3 separate regions of the Homo sapiens genome follow, and all the other regions are linked to region 3. The links come from fine-mapping of genetic effects on gene expression. A gene starts in region 3. Each other region holds a variant in brackets. All regions are shown on one strand. Distances are between the middles of the regions.

Region 1 (10,765 bases), 99 kb before region 3:
ATGTGCGCGCGCACACATACATACACACACGCAACCACACTCACCGGCGGGCTCTCCATCAGGACCTCTTTGCTGCCCACATCCATCTTGCTGCAGGTGCTATGCTCTCCTCTCCTCCTCTCCCAGGTGTGACCAGGGTCTTATATGTGTCCGTAGGGAGAGGGGACAGAGGTGAAGGACCAAGCCCCCTGTGTGCCAGCCAAGCCCTTGGCTTTGAAGCCTGTTTGTTCCTGGCCCTCCAGAACCGAAGCCCAGATAAGCCCCCTGTGAGAGCCCCCAAGGGCCCTTGGCCCTGGCACATGAGTCCTCTTGGCCCCAGCAAGAGCAAACCTGGGTGAGTTGAGCAAACTTGCCCTCGGGCCATCTGCACTTCTCACCATGGGTGTCTTCCTGGCGTGCCTGCCTTCCTTGCTGGCACCTGCCCCTGCTGCCCTGTGGCTTTCCTTTTTCTTCTACCACCCTGAACCTTTCAGGTGGCCAAGGGTCTGACCATCATATTTCCCAGCAGAATTTCTAGATACATAGGGATGCGCTCCAGGAAGAGGGTTCTGGAGGCAGCACCTGTAGACTCTGAGAGGACTCTGCCCAAGGCAGGAGGTGCTTTGACATCAGTTTTCGGGGTTTCATAAATGTGCATTTCCCTGCAAGGACCAGTTCCAACTTCAAGTACTCTTTCCCTTACCTTGCCTCCTCCCACATATCTGGTACCAACCTCAAACTTGCCCCCAGTGATTATTTTCCTAATTCTGGAAACTCTGTCCCCACTGGTGGCAAGCTCTTACTCATGTGCAGTGCTTCCTTCTTTGCTCTGGGCTTGTCTGTCAATTGCAGGCTGTGCTGATGGCAGATTCCAGGTCTGACACTGCTTTCTTCTGCCCGGACAGCCCTGAACAGGGCTGGCTCTGGTCACTGGTGGGCTCCCAGTCTCCCCATCCTCGAATCAGCTCACTCACCCTGTGGTCTACACTCTACCCCTCTAGACTCCCCTTTCTGCATCCTCTGATCCTAAATTTGCCCTGAGAATAATACTCACCCAAATACGATCAGCTTTGAGGACTGTCTCCTTCTCTTTTCTCTGTCTTTCCTAGTGCCTTCCCAAAGCCATCTCTATGTATTTACGAGGTCAAATCTGCCAATGACTTTGGGCTGGCTCACCCTTTCTCTCAGGTTCCCTTTCACTCCTTGGGCCAGGTGGTCTCTAAAGTCCCTTCACCTCTAAACTCAGGTGACTGTGGCAGAGTCCAGGCCTGGGCTCGCTCCCTTAACCTCCTATCCTTTTGTTTTGTTTTGTTTTGTTTTGTTGTGAGACAGGGTCTCACTTTATCACCCAGGCTGGCATGCAGTAGCGAGATCACTGCTCACTGCAGCGTTGACCTCCTGGACTCCGGTGATCCTCACACCTCAGCATCCCAAGTAGCTGGGACTACCAGTGCATGCCATTGTGCCCAGCTAATTTTTGCTTGTTTTATAGAGATGAGTTTTCACCATGTTGCCCAGGCTGGTCTCGAACTCCTGGGCTCAAGTGATCTCGGCCTCCTAAAGTGCTAGGATTACAGGTGTGAGCCACCATGCCCAACCAGCCTCCTGTCCTTTAACATGCCACCCCAGTTCCTGTCCCCTGCCCCAGCCCCCTCCCACCTGGGCCCTGCCCTTCGGTCATGAGCTGGCAGGTTCCCCTGTCCCCCTCTCCATCTGGAGGGCCTTCAGCCCCAAGGTTGCATAACAGCATGGCATCTGAACTGAGAGCCCCTGAGAAGCGCAGGGAGGAAGAAAGGGAGGGAAGTGTTTGCTCCCACCACCCTCCTCACCCCCTTGCTGCCCCTTTAAATATTTGCCTAAGACTCCAGCAGCCAGAGAGTGTCCTAGGACAGTGAAAGGAGGGGAGGGGTGCCGGGAGGAGGGGGAGCCCACAGAAGCATCCTCTCAGCTCGGCCTCAGCTGTGTGCAGGTGCCAGATGTGGGAGACAGCTCGCCTGCAGTGCCCACCCCTGCCCTCCCCCAGGGCCCTTACTCCCGCCCCCATCATCCTGGCAACATTGGGATTGATCGGCTGACTCACGAGTACTGGGCCTGAGCCAGGTGGGCAGCTGGCCAGCGGGAGAGCCAAGCACTGCAGGCATCTCGGGGTCCCTGTGGGCATCTCGGGGGGCCATGTTGTTCTCACGTGGGACTTGTTCTTAGCAGGCACTGTGGGTGGGGTTTGCCGCCATCGCTGGGTGCTGGGAGAGGGATCTCTTTCTTTGAAAAAGCCTCTGCTCTTTCTGGTCCTTGGTCTCCCCTGCCTGTTGCCCTTAGGCTGTAGCTGTCACAAGCTCTGTGGCGGCTGCTGCTGCTGCTTCTTCTCCTTCTTTTTTTAAACCCATTTTTGCTTGCTTGAGGGCTGAGGGAGGGTGCCTGCCTCCTGGAGTGCTCACACCAACCAAGTGAAGGTCTTGGGTTCCTTGGAGAAGGAGACACAGAAGGACCTTTAGCTGGGTGTGCCAAATTTCCCCCTCCCCCTACCAGCCCTGTCTGCAGCCTTCTCACTTTTTGGCCTGTACTTAAGCCGTTTCTCCCTCTGTGAAAGCCCACCTCCAATCCCTCTCCACTTCTCCGGTTTTATTTTTATTTTATTTATTTAATTATTTAGAGACAGGGTCTCACTCTGTTACCCAAGCTGCAGTGCAGTGGTGCAATCACAGCTTCATAGCTCACTGCAGCGTTGATCTCCTGGCCTCGTGTGATCCTCCTACCTTGGCCTTCCAAAGTGCTGAGATTACAGGCGTGAACAGTGCATCTGACCTTCCACCTCTCTGAATGCCACCCACCCAAACAGGCCAAGAGCCAATGGCACCTGCTCTGCGACCTCACTCCAGTTCATGGTGCCCTCTGAAATCCTCAGCCTCTCTGTGGCACCTTCACCTGCCATTCAGCACACATGAATGTTCCCATGAGTTACATGGGCGCTTTTTGTTGCTCTATCTTCCAGCCCAATTGCGGGCCCTGGGAAAGAAAGGAGCACGCTTCCTGCGGGCTTCTTTGAACCTGCCACTGGGCAGGAAGCATGCAAACAGCCAACACTTAATGATAGTCAATGATGAGACCAATACCAACAGCGGTCAATAGTCCATGCCTTCAGTATGTGGAGGTCTCAGTGCTTCCACTGGCCAGCTCTGGGACCCAGCGTGAGTCGTTCTGCTTTGTTAGGCATTAGTATGTTCATCTGTGAGATGGGTCAGGTACTAGCTGTCCACCTCACTATGCTATTATGAGGACCTAATAGCATCATGGGTGTGACATCCAGTCATCCTCATTAGCATCATCTACTTCATCCTCTAGGGGACCTCTCACTAGCTAAGAACACAGCCCAGACTCACCCTCTTTGTCTGTTTCTGGGTTGACTCCCTCTGAGAGCCCTGAGTGATGGACAGCCCCACGGTGGCCACCCCTTCTGTGTGGGCCTCCCCGTTTCCTCCTCCAGCCCCTCAGCTGCAGGGGTGGGGACAAGATTCACTTTGCTCTTTGTGTACTGGGCAGAGCCGTGCCAGGGACGGGTGGGGACAGTTGCCCAGCTGCCCCAGCCACCTCCCTACCCTCACTGCTTCCCTCCCCCCAAGCTGGCATGGGGAGGGCGGCTAAATGTGTGGCAGCAAGGAGACATCAAAGGGCAGGGGCATCCCTGGCTGGGAGAACACAACTTAAGCTCAGACCAGAGAATCCCCTGCTGGCAGAGTCTGGGGACAGCTGGGGAAGCATCTTAAAGCCAGTGGTCTTCGTTCCCTGGACTGGTGTGCAAAAAGCACAAGACTAGAAGCCCAGGCAGCTGACAGCCAGGCTCCCCTTGCCCCGTGCCTATGAGCTCTTAGGACAGTCATCCTCCGCCACAGGGGAGCTAACGTGGTAGAGAGCAGCAGTCTTCAAGCTTTTTGTTTTCAGGACCCCTTAACACTCTCAAAAAGTATTGAGGACCCCCAAGAGCTTTTGTTTATGTGGGATATGTCTGTTGATATTTACTGAGAAATTACATTTTTATTTACATGTGAATTTAAAATATCAGTAATAAACCCAATATAGGTTATGACATAAATCACATTTTTAATGGAAAAACGATTTTACAAAGCAAAATTATTTTACAAAGCAAAATAAAATTAGAGAGAAAGTGTCATTTCTTTACAGTTTTGGAAATCTTTTAAATTTGGAGCTTCATAGAAGTGAAAAGGGCAAATCATGTCTTAACAATATTAGGAAAATTGTTTTTACCTCAGAGACTTCCTGAAAGGTTCTCAAGGACCCCCGGGCTCCCAGGGCTACACTTGGAAGAGCCGTGCATGGAAGGACGACCGTGAACCTTGAAGCTGGGCAGAGTGGGCGGAAATCCCTGCTGATACCTTTTTCTTCTGGTGCGACAGGCCTCACTTTTCTTGTCTGTAAAAGGGAATTACTATCACCTGCCTCAAACGATTGAGAGGATTAAGTAGGGAAAGTACAGAGCACTTGCGATAGCAAGCTTAGGGGGCCTCAGTTTCCTCATTTGTTAGACAAAGGGCTGGACTGAAAAATATCCAAAGCGCTTCCCAGCTTTAACAGGCTGTGGTTGAGCGTGAGAAATGTTCCAGAATTCCACACAGTCCCACTCCAGCTCCAGAGGCTGCGTTTCCCTTTTCAGCTCATGCTGACACAAAGGTACATTCTGTTCAGCGGCGCGTGGAAAAACATGTGAATCCGGTTAGAAGCGCACTTCAGACTCCTCCAGGACGCCCTTGTGCTTCTAATCTTGCATGCTAACTTAGATATGCGTCTGTCACTCACGACATGCCCATGATGCTGCCTAGGGGATGTGTCCCCCCATGCAAAGAAACCCAGGTAGACAGAAGCACAGGGATCCCTAACGCCGAAGCGCCTCCACAAGGCAGTGAGTGCATGTGCCCGTGCAGAGACAGGTGAGCACCGGCGCGCACAGTCGTGCCCAGCAGAGGCACAAGCACAAGCTCACACGCATGCACTCACGCGCAGCCCCACACGCG[G/A]ATGGCCCCAGAGACCGCCCGGTAGAGCACACAGCGGCCACGCCTCCCCTTCCGTGACTCCCAGGCCCCGCGCCGCCCCGCGCGCGCCCCCGCCGCCCGCGCCGCAGTCCGCAGCCACCCGGCGCGGTCAGCCCCGGCTGCGGCTCCAGCTCCGCGCTCCGCTCTTCTCTCCCGAGCCGGATCGCGGGAGCGAGCAGGGGAGGGGACCGCAGCCGGCGCCCGAGGGCAGGAGGAGTCCGCAGGCGGGCCCCTGGCTGCGGTAGCAGCTGCCGGTGGCAGGGAGGTGCCAGCCCGCGCGGGGTGGCCCAGCCGCGGGAGCGGTGGGGCGGGGGCCGCGGCCGCCGGCCCCAGGGAGAGATCGCGGGCAGCATGGCGGGGCTGCGGGCCAGGGGGGGCCCGGGGCCGGGGCTGCTGGCGCTCTCCGCGCTCGGCTTCTGCCTCATGCTGCAAGTCAGCGCTAAGAGGCCCCCCAAGACGCCCCCCTGCCCGCCCAGCTGCTCTTGCACCAGGGACACCGCCTTCTGCGTGGACTCAAAGGCGGTGCCCAGGAACCTGCCCTCGGAGGTCATCTCCCTGTGAGTGTCCAGCCCTGGCCTTGGGGGTTGGGGAGGGAGAGGAGGCCGAGGACAGCTCTGGGAGAGGACAGGAGAACCCCCGCTCCCCCTCTTCAGAGTGCGGGGACCAGGGGGACTGCAGGGGTCCTCAGGGCTGGAGATTCCAGGCACCAGTCGGGCAGGGAGTTCTGCAGTTTTGCAGGCTCAGCGGCCATGGGTGGGGAAAGCAGGAGTTCACCACCAAGAATGAATCATCATCACCACGAGCGACAGTGAGACCTACTGTGTGCTGTGCTCCAGACTTGGGGGGGTTGCTTACACGAGCATGTGGGCCCCTGCCTGTGATGTCACACCAAGGGCAGGAGAGTGGCGGCCAGAGCAGGATGAGAATGAGCTATGCCCTCCCAGCACCCTGGCATGGGGCACATGCCCGCCACTGACCAGCCACTTGGCACTCAGCTCGGCCAGCCTGTCACTCACAACAGCCAGCCTCAGGGGCTCCCCCTTGTCTGTGGGACCAGAGAGGTTGTGAGGTCCTTGGGGACCAGGATGCCAGCCCCCACCCCCATGCCCCATCTCTCAACAGCACCCAGCCCATTGTGGGTGTTTGGATGATGATGACAACGGTGTGGGTGATGGAACCTTTTCTTGCCTGAGAGGGAAGCTGAGCCTGGGGCCATGGGTGCCCCAAGAGGCAATAGGGGAGGACCCTGGTGAAGGCAGGCAGTGAATTTGGGAGGAGAAGGGAAAGACACACAGATGGGGGCTAAATTAGGTGAAATGGGGCATTTCCAGGGCAAGTGAGTACAAAAGCTACTGCCCTCCGTGTTCACCTCTCCCTGCCTCAGCACAGCCCTTGCAGACCCCACAGTACTGACTCGGGTGTCCCCGCAGGACCCTGGTGAATGCCGCCTTCTCAGAGATCCAGGATGGAGCGTTCTCCCACCTCCCGCTGCTGCAGTTCTTGTATGGATAGGGCCTTGTGGAAGGGTTGGGGGAACTATGGGGTGGTAGCAGGGGACAAATCCTGGGCTGGGGAGAGGGAGAGTGGACAGAGGCAGCCTCTGCAGACGAAGATGCAGGTGTCCCTTGCTTTTGTTCTGATAGGATGTACCCAAAAGACGGGGCAGCCTTGAGTCAGGGGAGTCGGGGCAGCAGGAGGACAGCTAGGGATGGCACAGAGAAGCCAAGCAAGTGGGATGCGGGGATGGGCTTGGCTGCTCTGGAAACCCCAGAGAATTGGGTGCGATAGCCTGGGCTAGTGCCCAAGGTGGGCACTGTGGGGCCATCTTAGAGACAGGTGATCCCAGGAATCAGAGTTCCCAGAAAGAGCTGGGGGCTGAAAGAAAGGGATGGCAGGAGTGTCTCCAACCCTACAAGATGCCGTCCATGAGGGACAGTTGTCCATGAGGGGCTGGAATGGGACAGAATGAGGGTGGGGGAGAGGGAGAGGAGATGCCACCCGGGAGGACCAGGAGCTGGCTTGACAAGAGAGCTCTGCCTTGGCCCATGTTTAGGATCCAACAGGGACCCTGGGAGCTTCTGGGGCCAGAACAGGCTCCTGCCTGGCCTTGTTGCCCAGGTGGCCCAGGGATTCCCCATGGGGTCCCCAGGGGTAGCAGCAGGGCAGTCATGTCTTGGGGAAGCCCAGGGCTGAGGCAGCGGGCTGGGGGCTGGGGCAGCAGGCACACCCTTGGAAGCTCTAATTCCACCTTTGTCTCTGCAGGTTACTCAACTCCAACAAGTTTACACTGATTGGAGACAACGCCTTCACAGGACTGTCGCACCTGCAGTATCTGTGTGTGGGAGGGAAAGGGGCAATGGGAAAGCAGAAGGGAGGGGGACCCCAGGCCTGGGAGGCCGAGGGACTGGGTAGGGAGTGGATGAGAATGCCGCAGGAAGGGAAGGTGATGGGAGGCGAGAGCCCTTGCATCCCGTGATGGCAGGACCTGAGCAGAAGGTCGTTTCATTCATTTTGCCTCTACCCTACCTGATGCTCTATCTCTATGGCTTGGTGATGCCAGACTCCATTTGGAAACCTGTCTCGGGGACACGGGCTGAAATCTAGGCTGGGGCGTAGGGCGAGTGCTGCTGGGGGTCTGGCATCCTGTGTGAGCACTGAGGCAAGTTCCCGCTTTCCCCAGCTTCATTGAGAACAATGACATCTGGGCACTATCCAAGTTCACCTTCCGAGGACTCAAGTCCTTGACTCACCTGTGAGTACGTCACACATACACACACTGCACCAAAGCCCCACCTCTCCTGTGGCCTTTGGCCTTGCTCATGATCTTCAGATGACCTGGCGGTCTCTTTTGCAGCTCGCTGGCCAACAATAACCTGCAGACACTGCCCAGAGACATCTTCCGGCCCCTGGACATCCTGAATGACTTGTAAGGCCTGAGTCCTGCCTCTTCCAACAGTGCCGCAGAGGGCGCATCCCTGGAGGGAGTGGTGTGGGAGTCAGAATTGGGATGGTCATAAGGTCTTGAGAGGCTGGGAAGGCTTGGGTGGGGGGACCCTGAGGAGGTGAGGAGGTGGAGTTAGATATAGATGGTAGCCTTCCAAATTGGAGTTTCTCTCAAAGTGCACCTGAGACACCATGTGTGTATGTTTTCAAAATGTGTGTGTGTGTTTTTTTTTTTTTTTAATTATAGACGGAGTCTCACTCTGTCACCCAGGCTGGAGTACAGTGGCACAATCTCGGCTCACTGCAACCTCCACCTCTCAGGTTCAAGCGATTCTTCCTCAGCCTCTGGAGTAGCTGGGACTAAGGGACTATAGGTGTGCGCCACCACGCCCGGCTAATTTTTTGTATTTTTAGTATAGACGGGGTTTCACCATGTTGGCCAGACTGGTCTCGAGCTCCTAACCTTGTGATCTGCCAACTTCAGCCTCCCAAAGTGCTGGGAGTACAGGTGTGAGCCACCGCGCTCAGCCAAAAATGTGCTGAGCCACCGTGCTCAGCCAAAAAAAGGCTGGGTGTGGTGGCTCACGCCTGTAATCCCAGCACTTTGGGAGGCCAAGGAGGGCGAATCACCTGAGGTCAGGAGTTCCAGACCAGCCTGGCCAACATGGTGAAACGCCGTCTGTACTAAAAATACAATAATTATCTGGGTGTGGTGGCGGGCGCCTGTAATCCTGGCTACTTGGAAGGTTGAGGCAGGAGAATCACTTCAACCTGGGAGGCAGAGGTTGCAGTAAGCCAAGATCATGCCATTGCACTCCAGCCTGGGCGACAAGAGCAAAACTCAGTCTCAAAATATTAAAAAAAAAAAAAAAAAAGTACTTTAAAAAATTTTTTTTTTTTTTAGACAGAGTCTCGCTCTGTCACCCAGGCTGAAGTGCAGTGGTGCCATCTCAGGTCGCGGCAACCTCTGCCTCCCAGGTTCAAGCAATTCTCCTGCCTCAGCCTCCTGAGTAGCTGGGATTACAGGCATGCACCACCACACCTGGCTAATTTTATATTTTTAATAGAGATGGGGTTTCTCCATGTTGGTCAGGCTGGTCTTGAACTCCCGACCTCAGTTGATCCACTCGCCTCTGCCTCCCAAAGTGCTGAGATTACAGGCCTGAGCCACTGTGCGCGGCCAACATGTGCTTTTTTTTTTTTTTTTTTTGAGACGGAGTCTCACTCTGTTGCCCAGGCTGGAGTGCAATGGCGTGATCTCCGCTCACTGCAACCTCTGCCTCCCGGGTTCAAGCGATTCTCCTGCCTAAGCCTCCCAAGTGCTGGGACCACAGGTGTGCGCCACCATGCCTGGGTAATTTTTGTATTTTTAGTAGAGATGGGATTTCACCACGTTGCCCAGGCTGGTCTCAAACTCTTGACCTTGTGATCTGCCCACCTCAGCCTCCCAAAGTGTTGGGATTACAGGTGTGAGCCACCATGCCCAGCCTGTGCTTTTTAAATGTATGTTTGATTGGACTCTACATTAAAGTCCAATCAGCGGGAGGGGATTTTGAAAGTTTCGAGTAAGGAATATATAGCATATAGTAGTATATAGCAGAGCCACACTCATTTATTGTTATTTATAAGAAAATAAAAGCCTTGGATTGTGGGAGGCTTAGAGGAGCAGGGATGCAACATACAGCTGTGCAGGATGCACACTGCAAAAGCCAACCTAGCCAAAGAAGTCAGCAAGGACTGAAACTGATTCCATACTCTGCTGGCCAAGCCTGTGTCTGTGGGGCTACATCCAGCCAGAGGGAAACTTTTCTCTAATCTTACAAAGATGCATGTGAGCAACTTGCAGCAGCCTTGACCAGCTCTATTTCTGAAAACCTGGAGGGCCTGGGTAGGCAGAGCCCTGAGAGCATGTCTTTCTCTGTGCCCCCCTCCTCTGCCCTCATGATGCAGGGACCTGCGGGGCAACTCACTCAACTGTGACTGCAAGGTGAAGTGGTTGGTGGAGTGGCTGGCACACACCAACACCACGGTGGCACCCATCTACTGCGCCAGCCCGCCCCGCTTCCAGGAGCACAAGGTGCAGGACCTGCCGCTGCGGGAGTTCGATTGCATCACCACAGGTAGGAGGTGCCCCTGCCTTGGGTGTCAGTCCACGCCTACCCCAAGGCAGCTTTACAGACACGAAACCCCCCACCCTGCCCCACAACACCCAGCGGCAGCAGTAAAGCAACCACCATCACCCAAGCAGCCCTTCCCTTCTCCCTCTGGTCTTCAGTAACGCACCTCTCATCTTGCAGATTTTGTGTTGTACCAGACCCTGGCCTTCCCAGCAGTGTCGGCTGAGCCCTTCCTCTACTCCAGTGACCTCTATTTGGCTCTGGCCCAGCCAGGAGTCAGTGCCTGCACCATCCTGAAGTGGGACTATGTTGAGCGGCAGCTTCGAGACTATGATAGAATCCCAGGTACCTGCGCCCAATCTGGTTCTGCTGGCCCTTGCTAGGGGGAGGGGGGAGTGGGCTCCATCGTTCAACCCCATTGAGTTCCTGTAGGTAGAGGGATAGATGAGACATACCCTCTGCCCACAAGAACTTTCCAGTCTTTGGGAAGAGGCCAATGTATACACCGATAACATCCATATGATAGGCAGGTGTTAAGAGGGAGATATGAACATGATGCTCTAGCAGCACAAAGGACAAGCCTACCCTGGGCAATCAGGGAAGGCTTCCTGGTGGAGGGGGGATACCCAAGCTGAGTCTTGAAGAATAGAGGAAAGGGAGAACTCAGAGGTGATCCCCAGGTTT
Region 2 (10,742 bases), 18 kb before region 3:
TTACCCCGGCTTCTTCTTCTTCACCAGGCAACTCTGTGGCCCCACACCCCCCTTCCCCTGACACTTTCGGGTGCCAGGACCCAGCTTCTGCTGCTCTGCCTGTTCCCCTCCAGGAGGCACTCACCTGCAGGCCTGCGGGAGAGAAGGGGCATGGGTCAGATGCAGCTCTGAGGTCAGCAGGCCAACACGCCTGACCTCACCAGACCCCTGCCCACAGCCCAGACCCCGGCTGCCCAGGGACCTGTGTAAGCCCCTTCTCCAGACCCCGGCACCAGGCCCCACTTCTCACCTGGGCTTCCAGTCTCACTCCCTGATGGGCTGAACTCTGTGGACTGTAGCTAGAAAGGACACAAAGGAATCAGAGGCAGTCGGGGATATTCACCTTTGGTCCCCTTCACTTTGGGGGTCTCCCCGCTCCCTGAGGGTGCCCAAGTGGCTCAGTCCCTCAGCACCCCACATGCACGTTCCTCCCACGTAGTCTATATCTCTGGTCCTGAGACCTTACCCGGCTCAGGGTGGTCCTGCCATAGGCGGGGAGAGAGGAAGATTTAGACGTTCCCTGGTGCAAGGCTGGAAGACAGCAAAAGGTCCTGAGTTCAGTCCCTTTGGCCCTGACAGCCCTTCCTGAGACAGCAACCTCACTGGCCTTCCACAGCTGGGGCAGGGCAGGAAGGGATCACGCTGGGGGGAACCTGGTGGGCTTCTGCTAGCTCCCAGCTCCTACTGGTCACCTTCAGCAAGCAATACAGTGCTGGTGGTTCTCAGCTGTCTCTACCACCATCCCTCTTCTCTCCAGCTAGAAGTGGCCCAAATATACAACTGGGCCCAATGCCTGATGTGAAAATTGAGTCAGCCAGAGCCAAGGCTCACATCATAAAATGAACCTCTGGGATACACAAAGAAAACTAAAATCGAATCACAATAATTACATTATTATAATTTTATTAACAATGTTAGTAATCAAATCTAAAAAAAAAAAATTTTTTTTTTGGCCAGGAGTGGTGGCTCATGCCTGTAATCCCAGCACTTTGGGAGGCCAAGGTGGACAGATCACCTGAGGTTGGGAGTTCAAGACCAGCCTAACCAACATGGAGAAACCCTGTCTCTATTAAAAAATACACCGTGCCCGGCCAAAAATTTTTAATAGAGATAGGGTCTCACTATGTTGCCCAGGCTGAACCTGAACTCCTGGACTTAAGTGATCCTCCTGCCTTTGCCTCCCAAGTACTGGAGCTACAGGCATGGGCCACCTGCTCAGCTAGTATTCATATTTGTTTGTTTGTTTATTTATTTATTTTTGAGATGGGGTCTCCGTGTGTCATCCAGGCTGAAGTGCAGTGGTGTGATTATAGCTTTCTGTAGCCTCAACCTCCCAGGCTCAAGTGATTCTCCCCATCTCAGCCTCCTCAGTAGCTGGGACTAGGGGCATGCGCCATCAAACCCAGCTAATATATATATATATATATATATATTTATTTATTTATTTATTTATTTTTATTTTTTGTAGAAACCAGGCCTCACTATGGTACCCAGGCTGGTCTTGAACTCCTGGGCTCAAGCAATCCTCCCACCTTGGCTTCCCAAAGTGCTGAGATTATAGGTGTGAGCCACTATGCTTGGCCTAGTAATCAAATTTTAAAAGTCTGACATTAGGCTGGGCACAGTGGCTCACACCTGTGATCCCAGCATTCTGGGAGGCCGAGGTGGGTGGATCACGAGGTCAAGAAATCAAGACCATCCTGGCTAACATGGTGAAACCCCGTCTCGACTAAAAATACAAAACAAATTAGCCGGGCGTGGTAGCAGGCACCTGTAGTCCCAGCTACTTGGGAGGCTGAGGCAGGAGAATGGCGTGAACCTGGGAGGCGGACCTTGCAGTGAGCGGAGATCACGCCACTGCACTCCAGCCTGGGTGATAGAGCGAGACTCCATCTCAAAAAAAAAAAAAAAACAGTCTGACATTATACTACAGAAAGAGTCATGTTCTAAGCACTGTCACTGGGGATTGTACCAGCAGTCAACAACTTCACATCAGCATTACTGGACCTCAGTCTCAACTTGCACATTTAATAGGATCTCTAAATTCTGAAGTACTACAGATTATAATTCAGGAAAATTTGTTTCCAGTAATATGTTTTCCTGGAAATAACTTTGTACCTAAGATCCTTAGCTTGAGGTGATCTCAAAATGCCTTCACCTCCAATTGCTGGAAATGGCTGGCATTTATACCAACTGTTTCCACA[AG/G]CATTTTTGTATAAATAGTTAACCTCCATAGATTCAAAACTATGAGGAACTATCTTAATATATACATATATATGTATATATTCACATATATACATATATATGAATATATGTATATATGTATATATATATTTTTTGTTTTTTGATACAGAGTCTCACTCTGTTGCCTAGGCTGGAGTGCAGTGGTACAGTCTTGGCTCACCACAACCTCTGCCTCCCAGGCTCAGGTGATTCTCCTGCCTCAGCCTCCTGAGTAGCTGGGATTACAGGCACGCGCCACCATGCCCAGCTAATTTTTGTATTTTTGTTAGAGACAGGGTTTCACCATGTTGGCCATGCTGGTCTTGAGCTCCTGACTTCAGGTGATCCACCTGCCTCAGCCTCCCAAATTGCTGGGATTACGGGTGTGAGCCACTGCACCCAGCCTCTTCTTAAAATACTCTTATGAAATCTGTTGCTTGGAAGCATTCGATTATTGAGAACAAAACCTCATTTTTACCCCTAACACTTATTTTTATTTAGAAAATAGCTTTCACAATCACCATTCACTATTGAAGCATTTCACTCTTAGAATAATAAGTACACATTTATTCAACCAACTGATAGAATTTCAACCTTCAAACCCTGCACGAAGATTTTCCCCTCCAAATTACTTCTATTATAAAATGCTTACGTGTGTTCCAGAGCGACTATTCCAGTGTCACCATTTAATCAGAATGACATGCCTGTTCATGATTCTAGAATTCAGGTTGTTTAAATATGACAGTAACCTATGCAGTCATGTGATCATTAATCACCCACAAGTTCAGGGACGCCAAAGATGATCCAGAGGTAGGCATCTGGCTATTTCAACTTCACGAGGCCAAAATGGAAGTTAAAGAGCTAATCTGGGCTGAACAGAAGATTCTGGCAGAACACTGACACTGAATCCAACCTTCACGCATCCTCTCTCCACATCATTCTTTAGGCCTTAACTCTTTATTCCACATTCTCTAATAAACCTCTGTAGCTCTTCCCACCCACAGAGACAGCATCCTGAGAGCTCTGGGGAACACTCAGATGTCCTAACCACATGTTAACCTTGAATTCCCCAGTTCCAGTGGTTTTCACCTCTGCTCCACATGAGATAACCCTTTCAAAGAGCCATGCCCAGGATCTTGTCATCAGCTGCACCACGCTGCCTAGAAACTGTGAGCTTGGACCATTCACTTTGTGGCTTTGGCTCAGCTCCATCCCCACCACCCAGCCCAGCAACCTCATGGAGAACTCCAGTTTCTTCATTCCCCTCCTACCTCCCCCACCTCCCACCTTCTGTCACTACCTTCTCAGTTTCGGCTCTGTGGCTGGGCACAGCAACTACTTTTATCAGCTCCTCCATGGTGCAGCCTGGCCCCTCAGCACCTATCCTTAAAAACGCTAACCCAGGGTCAACCCAACAGCTCCCATCCTGCCCCCAGCTGTGGACATACAGCCCACACAATGTAGATGAGCATCACTACAAAGGCCAAGCCTCGCACGTTTCTCCTCCCCTCCACGGCAGTTCCAAACCCTCGCCATTCTCACCAAGTCTCACCCTCTAACGCTCAGCAGACAACCTCGGCTTCTCATCTGGCCTGCCCCTGGATCCAAGTTCCCATCCCACAGGGGAGGCCTTTGAAGGCCAGCCTCCCACACATTCTGGGGCTCGATCTCAACCAGTCCTCAAACCAGCCCTCTAATATATATATATGTATATGTGTGTGTGTGTGTATATATATGTCACCCAAAAAAGAAAAAATAGGACACCCAGGTGTCACCCAAAATAGTGTGTATATATATGTCACTATATATATATGTCACTGTATATATGTGTATATATGTCACTATATATATCGTGTATATATATATATAGTGACATATATATATACACACACACATATATACATATATATATACAATTAGAGACAGGATCCCACTCTGTCACCCAGGTTAGACTGCAGTGGCGCAATCATAGCTCCCATCTTAGCCACCCAACTAGCTGAGACTACAGGCACATGCCACCACTCCCAACTAATTTTTCTATTTTTTATAGAGACAGTGTCTCACTACGTTGCCCAGACTGATCTTGAACTCCTGACTTGAAGCAGTCCTCTCACCTCAGCCTTCCAAAGTGCTGGGATTACAGGCATGAGCCCCGACTGGACCTTTAATGGAAGCCCTAGGCACCCTTCCCTCCTCTCTCTGTACAATCTTACTTTCTCCTCACCATTTTCCTGCCACATATGAGCAAGCTGAAGACCCTCAAGCTCCCAACTCTGCCAGATGCACCTTCCACCCACAGTGCTGTACATGGGGCACTTCAAACCCCACATGTCCAAAACCAGTCTCTCATCTTTCCCTGAAAATCCGCCTCTCTTATTATCTCAGTTCCAAGTTGGTCATCACCCAGCACCCAAGACAAAAACCTCAGCTTCTCTCTCTTGCACCTCCCACGTCCAATCAGCCACTGGATTCGATCCAGCGGATTCAATTGTCTATATGTTCTCAAATCCATTCCCTCTTCTCTGGACCCACATCGTTTTTTAGCCCTTATCCAGTCTATTGGAGAGTGTGGTAGATTATTTCCAAAGATGGCCTGCACTGTTGCCTCCCATCTTTCATGCTTTCTGCAATGAGACCTTGTGGTACCTGTCATCAAGAAGTGGAGTCTTGGCTGGGCGCAGCGGCTCACGCCTGCAATCCCAGCACTTTGGGAGGCCAAGGCAGGTGGATCACCTGAGGTCAGGAATTTGAGAGCAGCCTGGCCAACATGGCGAAACCCCGTCTCTAATAAAAATACAAAAATTAGCTGGGCATGGTGGTGTGTGCCTGTAGTCCCAGGTACTCGGGAGGCTGAGGCAGGAGAATTGCTTGAACCTGGGAGGCAGTGGTTGCAGTGAGCCAAGATCACACCATTGCACTCCAGCCTGGGTGACAGTGAGACTCTGTCTAAAAAAAAAAAAAAAAAAAAAAATTTAGCTGGGCATGGTGGCATGCACCTGTAATCCCAGCTACTCAGGAGGCCGAGGCAGGAGGATCATTCAAGCCCAGAAGATAGAGGTTGCAGTCAGCCAAAATGGTGCCACTGCACTCCAGCCTGGGCAACAGAGCAAGACCCTGCCAGAAGAAGAAGAAGAAAGAAGAAAGAAAAAAGAAGAAAGAAGAAGAAGAAGGGGGAGGGGGAGGAGGAGGGTCTAGCTCCCCTCCCCTTGAGTCTAGGTGGCCAGTGACTGGCTCTGGCAGCTACAATGAAGAAGTGACACTATGTGGTTTCCTCTTAGGCTTTTTTCTTTTTTTTTTTTTTGAGACAGAGTCTCACGCTGTTCCCTAGGCTGGAGTGCAGTGGCTCCATCTCGACTCACTGCAACCTCCACCTCCTGGGTTCAAGCAATTCTCCTGCCTCGGCCTCCTGAGTAGCTGGGATTACAGACATGCGCCACCATGCCTGGCTAATTTTTGTATTTTTAGGAGAGACGGGGTTTTACCATATTGGTCAGGCTGGTCTTGAACTCCTGACCTTGTGATCCGCCCGCCTCGGCCTCCCAAAGTGCTAGGACAACAGGTGTGAGCCACCATGCCGGGACCCCTCTTAGGCTTTAAGAGGCTTTGCAGCTTTCATTGCTGGGTTTTCAGGTCTTCCTCTCCTCTCCAGCCGCCAAGCTCTGAGGAAGCCCAGGGTAGTGCGCTGGATAGTGGGCCACGCCATTCAAAGCCTGCCCCGCTCCCCATCTCTTGGTCTCACTGCCCACTGCCCCACAGTGTACCCTGTACTCTGTAATTCCAGACTCCTGGAGGCTCAGCCAGCCAGATGTTTCATGTTCCCAATTTCGCTCCCACACCATTCCCAATGTCTGCAATGCGCTCTCCCACTCACTTTTTCTGGCTTGCTTGGTCTCAGCCTTCAAGACTCAGTTTAAGCTGGACGCGGTGATTCACACCTATAATCCCAACAGTTTGGGAGGCCAAGGCGGGATGATTGCTTGAGTCCAGGAGTTCGAGCCCAGTCTGGGCAACATTGTGAGACCTTGTCACTACAGAAAATTTTAAAAATTGGCCAGGCATGGTGACGCACACCTTTAATCCCAGCTACTCAGAAGGCTGAGGTAGGAGGATTGCTTGAGCCTGAGAGGTGGAGTTTGCAGTGAGCTGAGAGTGCACCACTGTATTCCAGCCTGGGCAACAGAGCAAGGCCCTGTCTCAATAAAACAAACAAACAAACAACAAACAACCACAACAAAACCCCTCAGTTTGGCCTCCCAGGCCCTGTTGCTGTGCTCCCAAAGCACCCCGCGCACCTTGATCACAATACCGGCCACACTGCATCGAAATCCCACGTTCCATGACAGTTTCCCCGCCAACAGCAAGCTACCAGAGGACAAGACTAGATTTTTTCCCTGCTTATATGCCCAGTGCCTAGCACATGGTAAACGCTCAATAAATGGTTGTTAAATTAAACCAAACTTGCTGAATTCTATTTTAGCCGATTCTCTCATTTATCATCTGACATTGTTCCATGACTGGGATTCTTGCTCCCAAGAGAGCAGCCGTGCTTTGGGTCAGGGATTGCATCCTGTATGTGTCACAAGTCAACAGATGCACAGAGTCAGGCCTCCATCTCTGGCCAGGTGACTCTGAGCCCCCTCCACAGCACTCACAGGTATGGAAGGGTGTCCGGTCAGGCAGAGAGCGGGTTTTCCTTCGGATCGGCAATGACTTTTCCATCTCTTCTTTCAAGATCATCTTTCCCAAGTTGGAAGTAACCTGAGGAGGGAGAAAGGAAGATGGAGCCAAGACTTAGACACTTGAATGTTTCTTTTTTCTCTTTTTTTTTTTCTTTCTTTTTTTTTTTTTTTTTTTTTTGAGACAGGGTCTCACTCTGTCACCCAGGCTGGAGTTCAGTGGCACAAACATGGCTCACTGCAACCTTGACCTCCTGGGCTCAAGCAATCCAACCTCCTCAGCCTCCTGAGGAGCTGGGACCACAGGCATGCACCACCACACCCAGCTAGCTAATTGTTTTTTTTTTATATACAGATGGGGTTTCACCATGTTGCCTAGCCTTGTCTCAAAATCCTGGGCTCAAGTGATCCTCCTGCCTCGGCCTCCCTAAGTGTTGGGATTACAGGTGTGAGCCACTGTGCTGGGCCAATACTCATTTCTTATCTCTAAAAGGTCTAGAGTTGGGCCATGCTGCAGGCAGGACTGCGGACATTTCCCAAGTGGCTGGTTTGTGCCCTGGAGCTCACAGAGCCTCTTGTTCGTGGCTGACACATGGCCACAATGGGTTTGGCCACCCTTGAAAGCCAGGAGTCAGCGCTGCTTGGTAGAACTCTACCACGGCGGCCTCCCTGTCCTTGTCCCAGGTCACCCTGCTCAGAGCCTAGGCCCATGTCACTGTCAATGGTCTTTCCATGGTTCTCCCTCCTCCCCTGGAGGCCTGTAGCCCATGCTCTCCTTTTCTCTCCTCCCATGGATCACTCAGGCTGCTAGCTCCCAGCTCTGATGGGACCACCCTTTTCTGTGCTTTTGACCCTTATATCAAGTAGTGTCCCCCAGAAAGCAGCATAAAGTCCAGGTGTCCCTTCAAAAGCAAAATCCTGGGGTCTTGGCAAGAAGCGGCTCCCCAACATGTTCCAAAAAGCATGCTTTTCGGGTAGGAACCCCTTCGACTAGCTACAGAGCCAGAACTTCTGTCCCCAGAAAGACACACAGGGTGGGCTGGGCATAGTGGCTCACGCCTGTAATTCAAGCACTTTGGGAGGCCGAGGTGGGCGGATCGCTTGAGGTCAGGAGTTCGAGACCAGCCTGGCCAACACGGCAAAACCTTATCTCTATTAAAAATACAAAAAAAAAAAAAAATTAGCTGGGCGAGGTGGTGGCGTGCCTGTAATCCCAGCTATGCAAGAGGTTGAGGCAGGAGAATCACTTGAACCTGGGAGCGGAGGTTGCAGTGATCTGAGATCATGCCACTGCATGCCAGCCTGGGCAACAGAGCGAGACTCCTGCACAGGGGTGGAGGGTGGGGGTGGTGAGATGCTACCTTACTGAGTTCCTCTCTCTGACGCTCCCTGAGAGCCTTCATCTCCTCTCCAGAGTCGTCATCTTCCTCCTCCTCCTCTTCCTCTGCTCCCCTCCGAGACGCCTTCCGCTTCCTCCATTCTGTCTCTAGGAGACACAAGCAAAGGTGGGGAGGGAGTCACTCGCCATGGGGTCAGTGTGTGTTTACATGGCACAGCCTCTGTGCACTGCTCTGGGCTGGACCTTGATAAGGCCACTACAAAATTTTTTTAAAAAATAAAGTAGGGTCGGTAGATGACTCATGCCTGTAATCTCAACACATTGGGAGGCTGAGGTGGGAGGATCGCTTGAGCCCAGGAATTTGAGAACAGCCTGGGGTAATATAGTCTCTATAGAAAATTATTTTAAAAAATTAGCCCGGGGTGGTAGGGCATGCCTGTAGTCCCAGCTGCTGGGGACACTGAACTAGGTGGATTGCTTGAGCCCAGTAATTCGAGGCTACAGTGAACTGTGATGGAGTCACTGCACTCCATCCTGGGCAACAGAGTGAGATCCTGTCTTAATAAACAAATAAATATTTAAAAATAAAAATAGGCCGGGCGCGGGGACTCACGCCTGTAATCCCAGCACTTTGGGAGGCCAAGGCAGGCGGATCACGAGGTCAGGAGATCGAGACAATCCTGGCGAACATGGTGAAACCCCATCTCTATTAAAAATACAAAAAAATTAGCTGGGCGTGGTGGCGGGCGCCTGTAGTCCCAGCTACTCAGGAGGCTGAGGCAGGAGAATAGCGTGAGCCCGGGAGGCGGAGCTTGCAGTGAACCAAGATTAGGCCTCTGCACTCCAGCCTGGGTGACAGAGCGAGACTCTGTCTCCAAATAAATAAATAAATATAAATATAAATATAAAAATTAGCCAGGTGTGGTGGTGGGCACCTGTAATCCTAGCTACTTGCGAGGCTGAAACAGGAAAATCGCTTGAACTCAGGTGGTAGAAGTTGCAGTGAGCCGAGATCTCGCCACTGCACTCCAGCCTGGGCAATAGAGCAAGACTTCCTGTCTCAACATTTAAAAAGAGAGTCAGGCATGGTGGCTCACGCCTGTAATCCCAGCAGTTTGGGAGACAGGCGGGTGGATCACTGGAGGTCAGGAGTTTGAGATCAGCCTGGCCAACATAATGAAAACCCATATCTACTAAAAATACAAAAAATTAGCCAGGTGTGGTGGTGCATGCCTGTAATCCCAGCTACTCAGGAGGCTGAGGCAGGAGAAATGCTTGAACTCGGGATGTGGCGGTTGTGGTGAGCTAAGATTGTGCCACTGCACTACAGCCTGGGGCAACAGAGTGAGACTCCATCTCAAATAAATAAATAAATAAATAAATAAATAAAATAAAAATACAATAAAATAAGAGTAACATTTTCTCACCTTGCCATGAAGCTGGGTAGGCAACACACACATACACACACTCATGACTGAAATTCAGTGGGTGCAGCAACATGAATGGAACTGGAGGCCATTGTCTTAAGTCAAACAAGACACAGAAAGACAAAGACTGCATGTTCTCACTCATGAGTGGGAGCTTAATAGTGTGTACGCATGGATGTAGAGAGTGGGATGATGGACCATGGCAACTCAGAAGGGTGTGGGGGGTGGTGATGGGAAATTGCTTAATGGATACAACGTGCAGTATTCAGATAACAATATCATAAAAACCCTGACTTCACCACTGTGCAATCTATGCAGGTAACCAATTACACCTGTACCCCATAAATGGATAAAAATAAAAATTAAAATAAAATTCGCTGGGGACCAAACCATCTATCATTTATCTTTCTCTTTCCCAGTGCTCCCCTCACAGAGCCTGGGATGCAGAAGTTTGATACATGTCTGTTGAGTCAGGAAATAAATGAATGGAAAGCAAATGAATGACCAATAAAAGGGCCACTTACACCAAGCGCTATGGGAACACAGAGAGTGAGTGAGCAAGGAGCCTGGGGGCTCCTGAAGGTAGGAAAAAGCCCACGAGGACACCATAGGGCAGGGGTGGGAGTGGGTTCACGGACTGCAGCAAGAGCCAAGGGGAGGGAGTGCAGGAGTTTCCCAGACCACCCATTCCACTCTCCCCATCTCTCCTACCCACAACAGCCAGAGACGGGGGGCATGGCCAGTAGTCGGTTTCGATTTTGGCTGGCTGGTTGGGGTCTGGGGGCTGGGCTGCAGGAAACTTGGATGACTCGATGATGAGATCCTCGATGAGGTGCTTGGTCTGAGGGCTGCCTCCCACGGACTCTGCAGACAAAGGCCAGGGTCAGCCAGGTGTGCCCTGCCCGAGGCCAACTTGGCTACCTTCACCCCTCCCCCCTCACACCTGTGAGGTCCTGCAGGTAAAAGCAGTGTACACGCTGAGCACGGGGCACACGTGCTGCTGTGACATGCTATCCTCCCGACCCCCTCCAGCCAGCC
Region 3 (10,765 bases):
GGATAGAGGGAGGGGCTGAGAGAGTAGAACATCATGGAAGCCAAGTGTCACCATGGAGAAGGTGAGGAGAAGTGCTTTTCCTCCAGCTCGAATGTCAGGCCATAGTGGCCTCGTGGTTAGGGATTGGGGGGGTGATGGGGGTGCTGGCCAGGTGGTACAGCCAGGGGGAATGGCCCTTCCAAGAAGTGTGATAGAAAGGCAGGGTCGTTTTGGAGGAGATAAGATTGGCCTAAGGCCTTTAATGTGTTTGCAGACAGCAGAGAGAGAACGGTAGACAGGAAAGACTGAGGCTGCAGGGGGCAGTGGGCACTAGGTGGGTGGAGCAAGACGGCAGCAGGAGGGAAGGGATCAAGTTCACAGCCAAGTACAAGACTGGCTTTGGGAAGAAAGGCTCCCCGGAAACAAAGATGAGCTGGGCAGTGGCTTATGCCTATAACCCCAACACTTTGGGACGCAGAGGTGGGAGAATCACTTGAGCCCAGGAATTCGACACCAGCCTGGGCAACATAGAGAGACCCTATCTCTACAAAGGAATTTTTTTTTTTTTAATTAGCTGGGTGTCGTGAAGTACGCCTATAGTCCCAGCTACTTGGAGGCTGAGGCAGGAGGATGGGTTGATCCTAGGAGGTCAAGGCTGCAGTGAGCTATGATCATGTCACTGCTGCACTCCCTGGAAAGGAGAGGACAGGGAAAGAAGTTGGGTAACAACCATACAGGGCTTCCATTTTCCCAGCAAAAGTGAGAGATGGTGGCCAGGTACAGAGGCTTATGCCTGTAATCCCAACACTTCGGGGGCCAAGGCAGGAGGATCACTTGAGGCCAGGAGTTTGAGGTCTGCCTGGGAAATATAGTGAGCCCTGTCTTTACTTTTTAAAAAATGAAGAATTATCCGGGCATGGTGGTGCACATCTGTGGTCCCAGCTACTTGGGAGGCTGAGGCAGGAGGATCACTTGAGCCCAGGGATTTGAGGCTGTAGTGGGCTATGATTACACCACTGCACTCCAGCCTGGGCAACAGAGTGAGATTCTGTCTCCAAAAAAAAAAAAAAAAAAAAATGAGAATTAAGGTTCTCTGCAGATCTTACAGGTGAGTCAGAGGTTTGGAGGGGTCACTCTGAGGAGCATGTGCAGCTGCACACAGAGAGGGGCAGGAGGGAGACTGGATAACTTCAGTGTGTTCTGGAGCCTCGGGGAGGCCCTGGAATCTTCCTGAAACACCACCGGGGGGAGGGGCACAGAGTGTGAAAGTGGCTATCTGTCAGAGTGGTGGCTACTCAGAGAGGTGAAAGGTGAGTGGCCCAGGGTAAGCCATGTCTCAGGAGTATGTGGTCATATATCCCCATACTCACACGTGCACAAATACCGTGCCAGAGGCACAGGCACTCAGAAACATGATTCAAAATCCTGATGGTCACAGTCATATGAACAGCTGCCATTTATAGAACGTCTGTGTTACAGCTGGCACTGTGCTGGGCAGTTCACATTTTTTCTTTCTTTCTTTCTTTCTTTTTTTTTTTTTTTTTGAGACAGGGTCTCACTCTGTTACCAAGGCTGGAGCACTGTGGCATGATCATAGCTCACTGCAGCCTTGACCTCCCAGGCCCAACCCATTCTCCTGCCTCAGTCTCCCGAGTAGCTGGGACTACAGGAGTACTCCACAACACCCGGCTAATTCAAAACAAATTTTTTTTTTTTTTGTAAAGATGGGGTCTCCCTATGTTGCCCAACCTGGTGTCGAATTCCTGGGCTCAAGTGATCCTCCCACCTCTGCCTCCCAAAATGTTGGGATCATAGGTGTGAGCCCCTGCCCAGCCCATCTTTGTTTCAATTTAACCCTTACATTCCAATCTTGTGGGTTGGCTTGGATTGGCGAGTACCTCGTTTGCACATGAAGAAGTTGAGACTTGAACAAGTTAAGTAGTTGGTCAAGGACACAGTATTGTGTGGAATCTAAGCTCAGGTCTGTCTGATTTCTAAAACCATTCACCAGGATACTACCCAGGCAAAGCTGGTGTGAGTCACTAAGCCTCTGGCCTCTCACCTCTGCTCTGTCTCCAGTCCCTTCCTGCCCACAACCCCACTGCTGGGTCTTGCGCTTTAGCATCTGGGTCTGCTTCCTGGGGTCAGCCAGGGCCCTGCACCCTGGTGCCACCCCCTGCCATTTGTTAGAGAGCATGTTGGTTGATAAATTATTTCCACAGAGGCAGAAATTTTGTCTTACCCCTTGTGGGGCATTTGCACGTAAACGTGGGCCTAGCCTTAAGGCATAATGTTTGTACTGGTTAAATTTTAAGCTGTCAGAAGGCCAGCCGGGAAAATGGGGGTGGAGAAGAGTGTGTGTATATGTGTGTGTGCGTGCGCATGTGTGAGGGGGAGAGAGAGAGAGAGAGAGCGAGACAGAAAGAGAGAAAGAGAGAGAGAGTTTCCTTGGCTTCTCTCAAATCACACCCTGCCTACTCCACCCACAAGTAGCCCTTTCCATCAAAGCTCATTTCTCGCAGGTCAAGTGCCAGCTCACTCCACCTCCTCCCATCCAGACCCCTCTCCCATCCATGCACCCCGCCTGTCTGTGCCTGCATCCCCAAGGTCCCAGCGACCTCCGTGCACAAAGAGATAGAAAGGGCGAGCTGCAGCAGGAAGAGGGGAGGGAGGGAGGAAGAGAGAGCACCACAGAGGAAGGCAGGTCCAGGTGACGGAAGGGACAGCTCAGCTGCCCCTGGCCCTGGTCGGACGCCAGCCAGCCGCTCGCCCTCCATCTCAGCCCCACCCTCCCCCAGCTGTGTGTCCCTGCCTTATCTGAGCCACCAGCCCAGCCCCACCTCACCCACCACCCTCTCCTCTCCACAGCTCCCCAGGATGTGGGTGATAAGACCCGCCCACTGGGCCCTCCGAGTTTGTGCCCACTCATCCTGGCGCGCTCTTCTTCCAGGCAGAAACTGATCCAGACTGTGGCTCCCCTGGACTTTTAGAAATGAAGCCTCCGCAGGCAGAATGGCAACTTCGGGGTGGAGGGCCCCTGGTCTAGCTGTGCTCCTGTTTCCAGCCAACCACTACCTGCTTGGTGGCAGCCCCTGTATACTTGGGACTTTCATACATCGTCTCTAAACCTCACACAAAACGACATTCTCCTCATTTAGAGATGAGCAAAAATGAAGCTGAGAGGTGAACTTGCCGAAGGCCCCCCAAATAGAAGCCAAGCCAGAATCCCTACCCCGGCCTGCCTGAGGCCAAAGCCAAGTGCTCTTTTCAATGAGTACCAAAGATCCCAGTTCAATCAAAATGTGGGACTTGGGGGTCCCACGTGCTAACCTTAGACAGTGGAGCCACCCAGAGTCCTGCTCGTTGATGGCATCTGTAGAAGAGCAGCTGGGAGTGTGGGGGCCTCTGGCTCCGGGCCACACAGGCAGCAGGGTCCAGCCAGGCTGGAGGCCGGCTGGTGCAGACAGTAAGTGAATTATGAAACGAGGCAAGTCATCCAAGCAGGCTGGCGTCGGTGGGCAGGGAACTTTGCCCCGCTTCGCCTTCTCCTGTTCTGTTCACAGTGCGACTGCCTGGCCCTCTCTCCCTTTCTTCCTCCTGTCTTTCTGCTTTCTCTTCTGGTCCCTTTTCTTGGCTTTCTTCATCTTTTCTCCCTCCCTCCCTCTTTCCCTTTCACCCTCTCCCCTACCCAGCCCCACCCCCGCAGTTACTGTGGCAACAATTCAATGCCAGAAATAAAGGCAGAATCCAGCTAGGTCACCAGTTCCCAAAACAGCATCCTGGGTGGGGAGGGGCAGGGAGGGTGGAGCAGTGCGGCGCTGCAGGGCAGGGGCCAGGCGCTCCCATGGGTGCTGTGCATGCGTGTGATGTGGGTGGGGTAGGGCACCTTGCTCCCCGCACCCCCCCGCCACTGGAAAAGGACACCAGGAGGCTGAGGCCTGCTCTGGGCCAGTGGCTCATCAGAGGTGTCCCTTACTTAGGCGAAGCCTGAACTCCAAGTCTGTCCTAAGGCTGGCAGAGCCTGGGGACTCCCTCCTCTTCTCCCACTTTCTCCCTCTCCCCTACTCCAATGTTTTTTACCGTTGTGTCTGCTGGGATGAGGGTTCCCCTAACCCAGCACTACAGGGCACCCTCTCATACTCGGATAAAGGACCAGGCCTGGGTGGGTGGGGAGCCCAGAGTCCCCCTGCTCAAGGCCTGCCCTCCCTTGTTCTCTCAATAACAACAAAACCGGGCCCAGGTGCCCCCTCCTGCCTCTCTAGCCCACCCAGAGACGCATCTGTGCAGCCATCTTCTCCTAGGTCTCTCTCTGGTTTGGTTTCTATGTGCCCTCTCCACCCACCCTCTGAAGAGACCCCGCTTTCTGCTTTCTGCATCCTGCAGCCCCCTCAGGCGGACTGCTTCCCCTCCATTTATAGCTGGTCCTGTTGTACAAGTGGGACTGGCAGAGCTGGGGGAGATGCAGCCTCAATTCAGCTTTCTGGATCCCAGGGCCTCCCTGTTCCAGTCCCACAACACCCAGGAGCTCTAGGAGAGGGATTCTGCAGACATCCACCCACGGGTGGACAACCTCACCCAGGAGTCTAACGCCTGACCACAGAGAGGCCGGCAGCACGGACACAAGATGGACAGGTGGGCACAGGCAGAAGCGCCCGCGCTGAAACCGTTGCAGGACGCATGCACGCGGGGAGACTCCGAAGCCCTGTGTGCCAGCTCATGCCCCCACTCTCCCATCGAGGCCCCCTCACTGTGACACATGGTGCTGCCAACACCCGCTCACACCCACCCACCGGTCCTCTCCCTGGCATCCATCCCAGAGTAGTGCACGTGTACAGCAACATACACAGAGCCCTCCACTTACCCAGCTCTGGAGGCCTTCCCTGGGCTCCCCATTCCCACAGCCCAACTGCCTTCCTTGTCTTGGACCTGTCCCTGCTCCCCTGACTCTCACAACCAGGCAACTGGTCCCTGGAAGGGACACACTGGGTGTGTCTGCCCAAGAAAGGGGGCTGGACCTGCTAGGCCCTGAGGGACAGAGCTAGGGAGGGGGAGCCCCAGAACCCTGTGGGGGCTGCATGTCTGCTCAGCCCTGGCCCCTTCAAGCACCCCAGCGGCGGGCACAGGGGGAGTACTGGGCTTGGGCTTGCAGCTGCGCCCTGCCACAGCCTCACTCTTCACTCAGCCCCACCCCAGCCTGGCCAGCCACTGGCTGGGGGCAGGCTCTCCTCCCACTCCCCCTAAAAAGCAGGCTCCAAACAAACAGCCTCAGGCCCCTAAATGTACTGCTCCAACCCCCAGAGCATGTGGAGTGGTTTTGGGGAGGCCAGCGGGCCAGTATTCAGCAGAGAGGGAATGCTCCCCTGCCCACCCCGTGCCCCCACAGTCCATCCCTTCCATTGCTGGCCTGCTCAGCTAGGTAGGCCAGGCAGAGATGCTGGCAAAGAGGGGATTGGGCTGGGAGCAGTTCTCATCCTTGGGATGAGAACACCCCAGGCCCTCTTCCCCAGATCAGAAGGTTCCATTAGATCAGGCCCAGCTGGTCCCAGGGGCCGGCCCATCCTCCCACTGAACAGGGCCCACAGTGGGCTCCCCCCAGATACCCTGCTGCCACCCAAAGCCTGGCTCGCCAGCAAGCGCTGTGGCCCAGAGTGCCCACAGAGGGGAGGAGAGGCGGAGACCCTGCCACCTACCTCTTCCCAGACAGTGTGGCCCAGACGCTCTGAGGCCACAGAGGCCCGAGAGGCGTAGGCCAGATCCACGGGCTGTCACTTCCCCCAGGAGCCTAGGTAATAGGTGTCTCTTCCAGGAACCCCGCGGCGCTTCCCCGGAGCACAAATAACAGGAAAAATGCCGGCTTAGGGTGGGTGGGCGGGGTGGGAGCTGGCGAAGGAGGGGAGCTGGTCTCGGCTGAGCGGTCTGATCTCCCCTCTGGGCCCCCACCCTCCTTGCCCCCACCCTGCTTCTCTGCAACGCACGGCCGCCTGGATCCCCCGGTGCTGGGGAGTCCTCGTCTGGGGGCGGGAGGGCGGGCGGGCTGCTGGCTCCCCCACGCCCTCCCCGCGCCCTCCCCACTTCCAGCTGATAGCGTGTGGCTGGCAAGGGTGTGTGTGTGGATGTGCGCGCTCTTCCACCAGCGCTGCAGCTCAATCCATTTCAAACAAGAGGAGCATTAACCCAGCGTCATGACAAAGCAGAATCAGCCAGCACTGTCCTCTCCCTTTCCCACACCGCAGTCTGCAGCACTCACACGCACACACACACCCACACGCACCCAGAGCCCCTCAGCCTCCTCCTAAACAGCCAGAGTTCAAGTTGCTGTGGGCGGTGGGTCGAGGGAGGGGGCTACTGATGACCCAGGCGGACAATGCCTGCTTTCTCCAGGCACCTGCACCTCCTACCCTATTCATGACCACCCCACCATCTGACAGCAGCAACTGAGGCCTCTGGGGCCCAGCCTCTTGAGGTGGGGGTGCAGGCACAGGCCAGAATTGGTTACCCAAGGATGAGCTCTCTCCTGGGAGGGTAGAATGGAGGGATGCAACCAGGTCCTCAGTACTGAGACTTGAGCTGGCCCCTCAGTAACCTGAATCCCCTGGGAACTCCAATGGGATGCAGCAGAGAGAGAGAAGGACCCCATCTCTCCCTAGGGTGGCTTCATGAAAAAGGAGCTTCCTGCCTGGTAACCCCTGGGTCCCAGCACAGAATTTACAGGCATGTGCCTTCCCTGTCTCTAGCAAAGCCTCAACCACCCCAGGAGCCTCTCATTGGCCTTTCGGGCCCCCTGGGCAGGATGGGGAAGGACAACAAGCCTTGCCCTCGACCCTCGCCCTGGCCCCAATGTCCTCTCCACCTCCACACCGCAGACTTGCCTACCTAGGCAGCCCTCACCGTTGCCCTGGCAACCCTGCCCCCAGCCGGTCAGCTGATGGTATCAGCTGTTGTTGGGGAAATCTAGAATCTGGGGAGGGGGCTCTGGGGTGTCTGAATGGAGAAGCACAGGGGGAGGGGCTTGAGGGAAGAGGCCAGGAGGGGACAGAAAGTATCTGGCTGGTGGGGACAGAGAGGACAGTAACCTGAGGGATGGGCTCCAGAGAGAAGGGAGGAAGGAAGGAGGCAGGTGGCTGAGAAGGGAGACAGAACACAGGCTGAGCTGCTGCAGCCAGGCGGGGGTGGCTGTGAAGGTAGAGAAAACCTGGGGGTGGGGGATGAAGCATCAGATCCATGGAACTGCAGAGAAAAAGGCCAGGAGAGTGATGTGGGAGGGGGCATACCTTCAATGTGGCAGAAAGGGGCACAGCCTTGGAGGAGGAGCCACTCCAGCCATCGCTCCACAACCAGCCCGGCCTCAGCCCAGCCTCTCGGCTTTCTGTACCTTCAACCCCACCCTTACTTCCCTCTAATCAGAGTCTGAGAGACAGAGGGGAAGCCCCAGCCCCACTCCAGCCCTAGATGATCTCTCTCGGTCCCTCCAGCGGACCAGGTACTTGGGGCTTTGACACCTCAGCCCTTTAGAATTCCTGATCCCCGCCGCACCCCGACCTGGGTTCCTCCCCTGTATTGCCCCTCCCCCACCAGGCCCCACCCCAGGAGAGCTGTCTTCTGGTGCAAGGGTCCCCAGAGGTAGAGTTGGAATGAGCTGATGCCAGGAAGGACAGCTGTGGCCAGGGGCCTGGAACGAGGTGGGTGATGAGGAATGGGTAGAATCGCTGGGCCTGGGAGGAGGGGTGCCTCCTCCTATTGAAGCCAGTGCATGTAGGGCAGAGTAGGGGGAGTCAAGGGGAAAGGGCGGAGGGGAGAAGGAGGGGAGGGTGCTCGGTACCTTCAAGGGCCCAGGGCGTGGGGCAGGAGCGCAGCAGCCTCCTCGGTGACATACACCTCCATCCCTCGGCGCATCTCCTCTCCACCTCCTGTTGCCAAGACAACCTGCCGGCAGCTCAGGCCCGGCTCAGCCGCGGCAGCAGGGAGGGGGGGAGGAGGAAGCTGTGCCTCCCGCTGCCTCTTCCTCAGAGATGGAGGGAGGGGGCCTGAGGGTGGGTCCTCAGTGCTGGGGCTGGGGGTTAGGGGACAGCTTCAGGAGCTAGGGTGCCCAGTGAACCCCACCAAGTACCCCATCCCCCCACTTCCTTTCATAAGGCTCTAGAATTGGCTTTAGGGGTGACCCCAGGAGAACCCTAATTCAGGGCTGGAGAGCAGGCCAGTCTTGAAGAGTATGCAGCACTGGGGAGAGTCCCCACTCCAGGAAGCCCAGTGTGGAGCTCGGGACAATGACAGGCAGCAAGGCAGGGACAGTCCTTGTGCTGAAGGGCCAGAGGGGTTGCTCCGGCAGGGTTCAGAGGCCCCTGGGCGCTGGCTGCACTGGGCACGCGGCTGCGGGCCCCACACCTCTGCCGTCTCTGTGAGCACCTTCACCTGGTCCCAAACCCTCTCTCATTCCACCTGAGAAAACTCAGAGCAAGGGACAGCTCTCTTCCAATTCCTCAAGGCCCCATTCCCACTGTCCCCCACCATGCCTGAGTCTCACATTCTATCGGAATGTCCCTCCATGGGTGGGGCGGGCGGGCCACCTTGGGCAGGAAGAGTGCTCAGCCCAGCCAGGCCTGGACCCAAGGGGACTGCAGAGTGAGGGCTCCCTCTGTCGACCTGAGGAGTGGTAGCTGCCAAGGTCATTTTGCTGCCAGGGATCTGGGCTGTGTGTGTGTGTCTGTGTGTGTGTGTGTGTGTGTATTGGTGGTGGGCGTTCAGAGGGGAGGCAAGGGGACCCTTCTCACCCATGCCATCCTCTGACCCTACCTCGTCACTGTCCTTGTCCCATGGGAAGACTCACTCTGCCTCCGGCCTCCTCCCCCTGGGAAGGCCTCTGACCTCTCAAGGCCAGCTGAACTGAACTCCCCCATGGCTTGTCTGAGAGGGGAGATTCTCCCCCTTGAAAGCTGGCAACACTGAACAACAGGTGCCTGTTGGCTCAGGCCCCAGGCGGGTGGGCTTCCTCAGCTCTGCTCCATACTGAGCAGGCAGGAGGCGGCTGCCAGGGCTCTCATACCTTTGGAAGTTCAGGAGTTCTCAGGACCTTGAGGATGGGCGCTTGTGTCCACAACACGGGGCCAGGATTCCTGTATCTCTCAGGCAGGGGGGTCCCAGGCCCCCCGACGCCCCGTTCTTGGCTCCTTTCCCCACAAGGTCACTGGTGCCAGATGTCCTGGGTGGACTCCGGCCCTGCTGCCTCCTCCCTCCCCCAGGCCCTGTCGATAGGCTTCTCTGTCCACGTCTGGTCTGTCTCACTCCAGTGCCCCCCGGCCCCACCCTACACACCAACCTGCTGGGCGGGGGAGCTATCTAAACATTAACTTCGGGAGAGGTGGAGCCAGGGCACCTGGACACTCAGGGAGGAAGGAAAGGGTGACAGAGACCTGAAGAAAAGGAAGGATGAGGGCCCCAAAGCCACCATTCTCACCAGAGATTGGGAGCCATGTGCCCCTGCCTCCGGGCATTGGACTCTGCTGCCCAGACCCTAGAGCCTCCACTCCTTCAGCATGCTGCCACCAGACCACTGCATCTGGCCCCCGCAAAGCCCCTCACCATCTCCTCCCTGCCACAGCATAAGGACCAAACTCTTCATCATTTGATCCAATCACTTCCTGCCACTTCTCTACACAAATTTCAGCTCCAGCCAAGTAGACGGACTATTCCCCTTCCCTGGAGCACACCTCCCATTTTGCCGCCTTGATTCTCGTGCCCGTTTTTCCTCTCGTCATTTTCCGCTCTGTGCATATTTTCTCCACTGAAATCATCTGAAATCATGCAAACCCCAGACCTTCCACAAAGCCCCCGCAAGCACCCTGGCCTGTGCTCTCTCCTGCCCCAGAACTCACGATGCCTGGGCACACTTTGCAGGCAAAGTGTGGAAGCCGGGCAGAATCTAGAGTGCAGTGCTCACTAGCTGTGAGACCGTGAATGGCCTGGCATTTCTGAGTGTGAACTCATCCACATGTGCTACATGGGAACATCTCACTGCCCTAAAGAAGGATTGCAAGCAAGTATGCCCTGAGTGTGGCCTAGCACATCTCCTGAGCTCGGTACATATTAGTTTCCTTATTCCCAATAATTCTTATCTCCCCTTTCCCTCTTTGGGGACGTACGAAAAAAAAAAGGTTGCTTTGTTATGTCATGTGTAAGAGAGGGTTTTCCAAAAGTCCCACCAAAGAACAAATAATTGCCTTTTTATGGGTTTATCCCTCCAATTAAATTTCAAGTGCCTTGAGAGCTCTATCTTGTCCATGTTTTTTATTAACAGAAGGATTAGCACAGGACTTGAATGTTGTGGGGGGAAAATAAACACTGGGACTAACTGCTTAAGCCCCCGCCCCACCCACGTCTGCCTAAAGAAGGAAGGAGAAGGCAGGATTCTGGCCTCTCTCCTGCCTCTGCCTAGAGGGATGGTGGGGTGTTGGGCCAATGACTTCTTTCTAGGGCTTCAAGTGGTTTATTTCCTCAATAAACATTTACCCTGTGCAACATACTGTGCTGGGCACTGTCGGGGAGGAAAAGATGGACTATTTCTACATCTGGGGCACTTGCTATTTAGCGGAATCATGACAAGCACATACATCATGACAGTTCTGGACAAGCTGTGACATGTACCACAAGGCAAGGGCAAGTGAATGGCTGGCAAGACCAGTGGCAGTGGAGACAGTCGCTCATCCCGGGGTAGTGCCAAGAGCCTATGGAGCAGAGGAGGAGCCTGCGGTCTGGGTGTGTGTGTGTGTGCTAGAGCAGGACACGCCAGGTG

The links. PIP is the estimated chance that this variant, and not a neighbour inherited with it, causes the effect.
Region 1: its variant is the best candidate, but not a certain one, in a credible set for the expression of DMTN in subcutaneous fat (GTEx, PIP 0.86).
Region 2: its variant is the best candidate, but not a certain one, in a credible set for the expression of DMTN in whole blood (TOPMed, PIP 0.80).

Annotation. Positions count from the first base shown.
Region 1 is chr8:22,151,150-22,161,914 of GRCh38, reverse strand. It overlaps LGI3 (leucine rich repeat LGI family member 3), which reads left to right and starts at 5,109. Exons shown (of 8, transcript NM_139278.4): 1 at 5,109-5,578; 2 at 6,452-6,523; 3 at 7,284-7,355; 4 at 7,702-7,773; 5 at 7,876-7,947; 6 at 9,915-10,084; 7 at 10,262-10,426. The coding sequence starts at 5,373. SFTPC (surfactant protein C) reads right to left here and starts at 117. Exons shown (of 6, transcript NM_001317778.2): 1 at 45-117. The coding sequence starts at 86. RefSeq lists a cis regulatory region at 5,004 and an enhancer at 4,932-5,076. The variant G/A (reference allele first, on the strand shown) is at 5,004.
Region 2 is chr8:22,070,008-22,080,749 of GRCh38, reverse strand. It overlaps DMTN (dematin actin binding protein), which reads right to left. Exons shown (of 16, transcript NM_001387751.1): 8 at 10,416-10,568; 9 at 8,300-8,424; 10 at 6,915-7,020; 11 at 506-570; 12 at 290-338; 13 at 125-132. Among named protein-coding and RNA genes, the nearest start is that of FHIP2B, 14 kb to the left of the region's middle. The variant AG/G (reference allele first, on the strand shown) is at 2,244.
Region 3 is chr8:22,052,041-22,062,805 of GRCh38, reverse strand. DMTN (dematin actin binding protein) reads right to left here and starts at 5,992. Exons shown (of 16, transcript NM_001387751.1): 1 at 5,670-5,992. RefSeq lists enhancers at 1,988-2,949, 3,913-4,874, 10,566-10,765.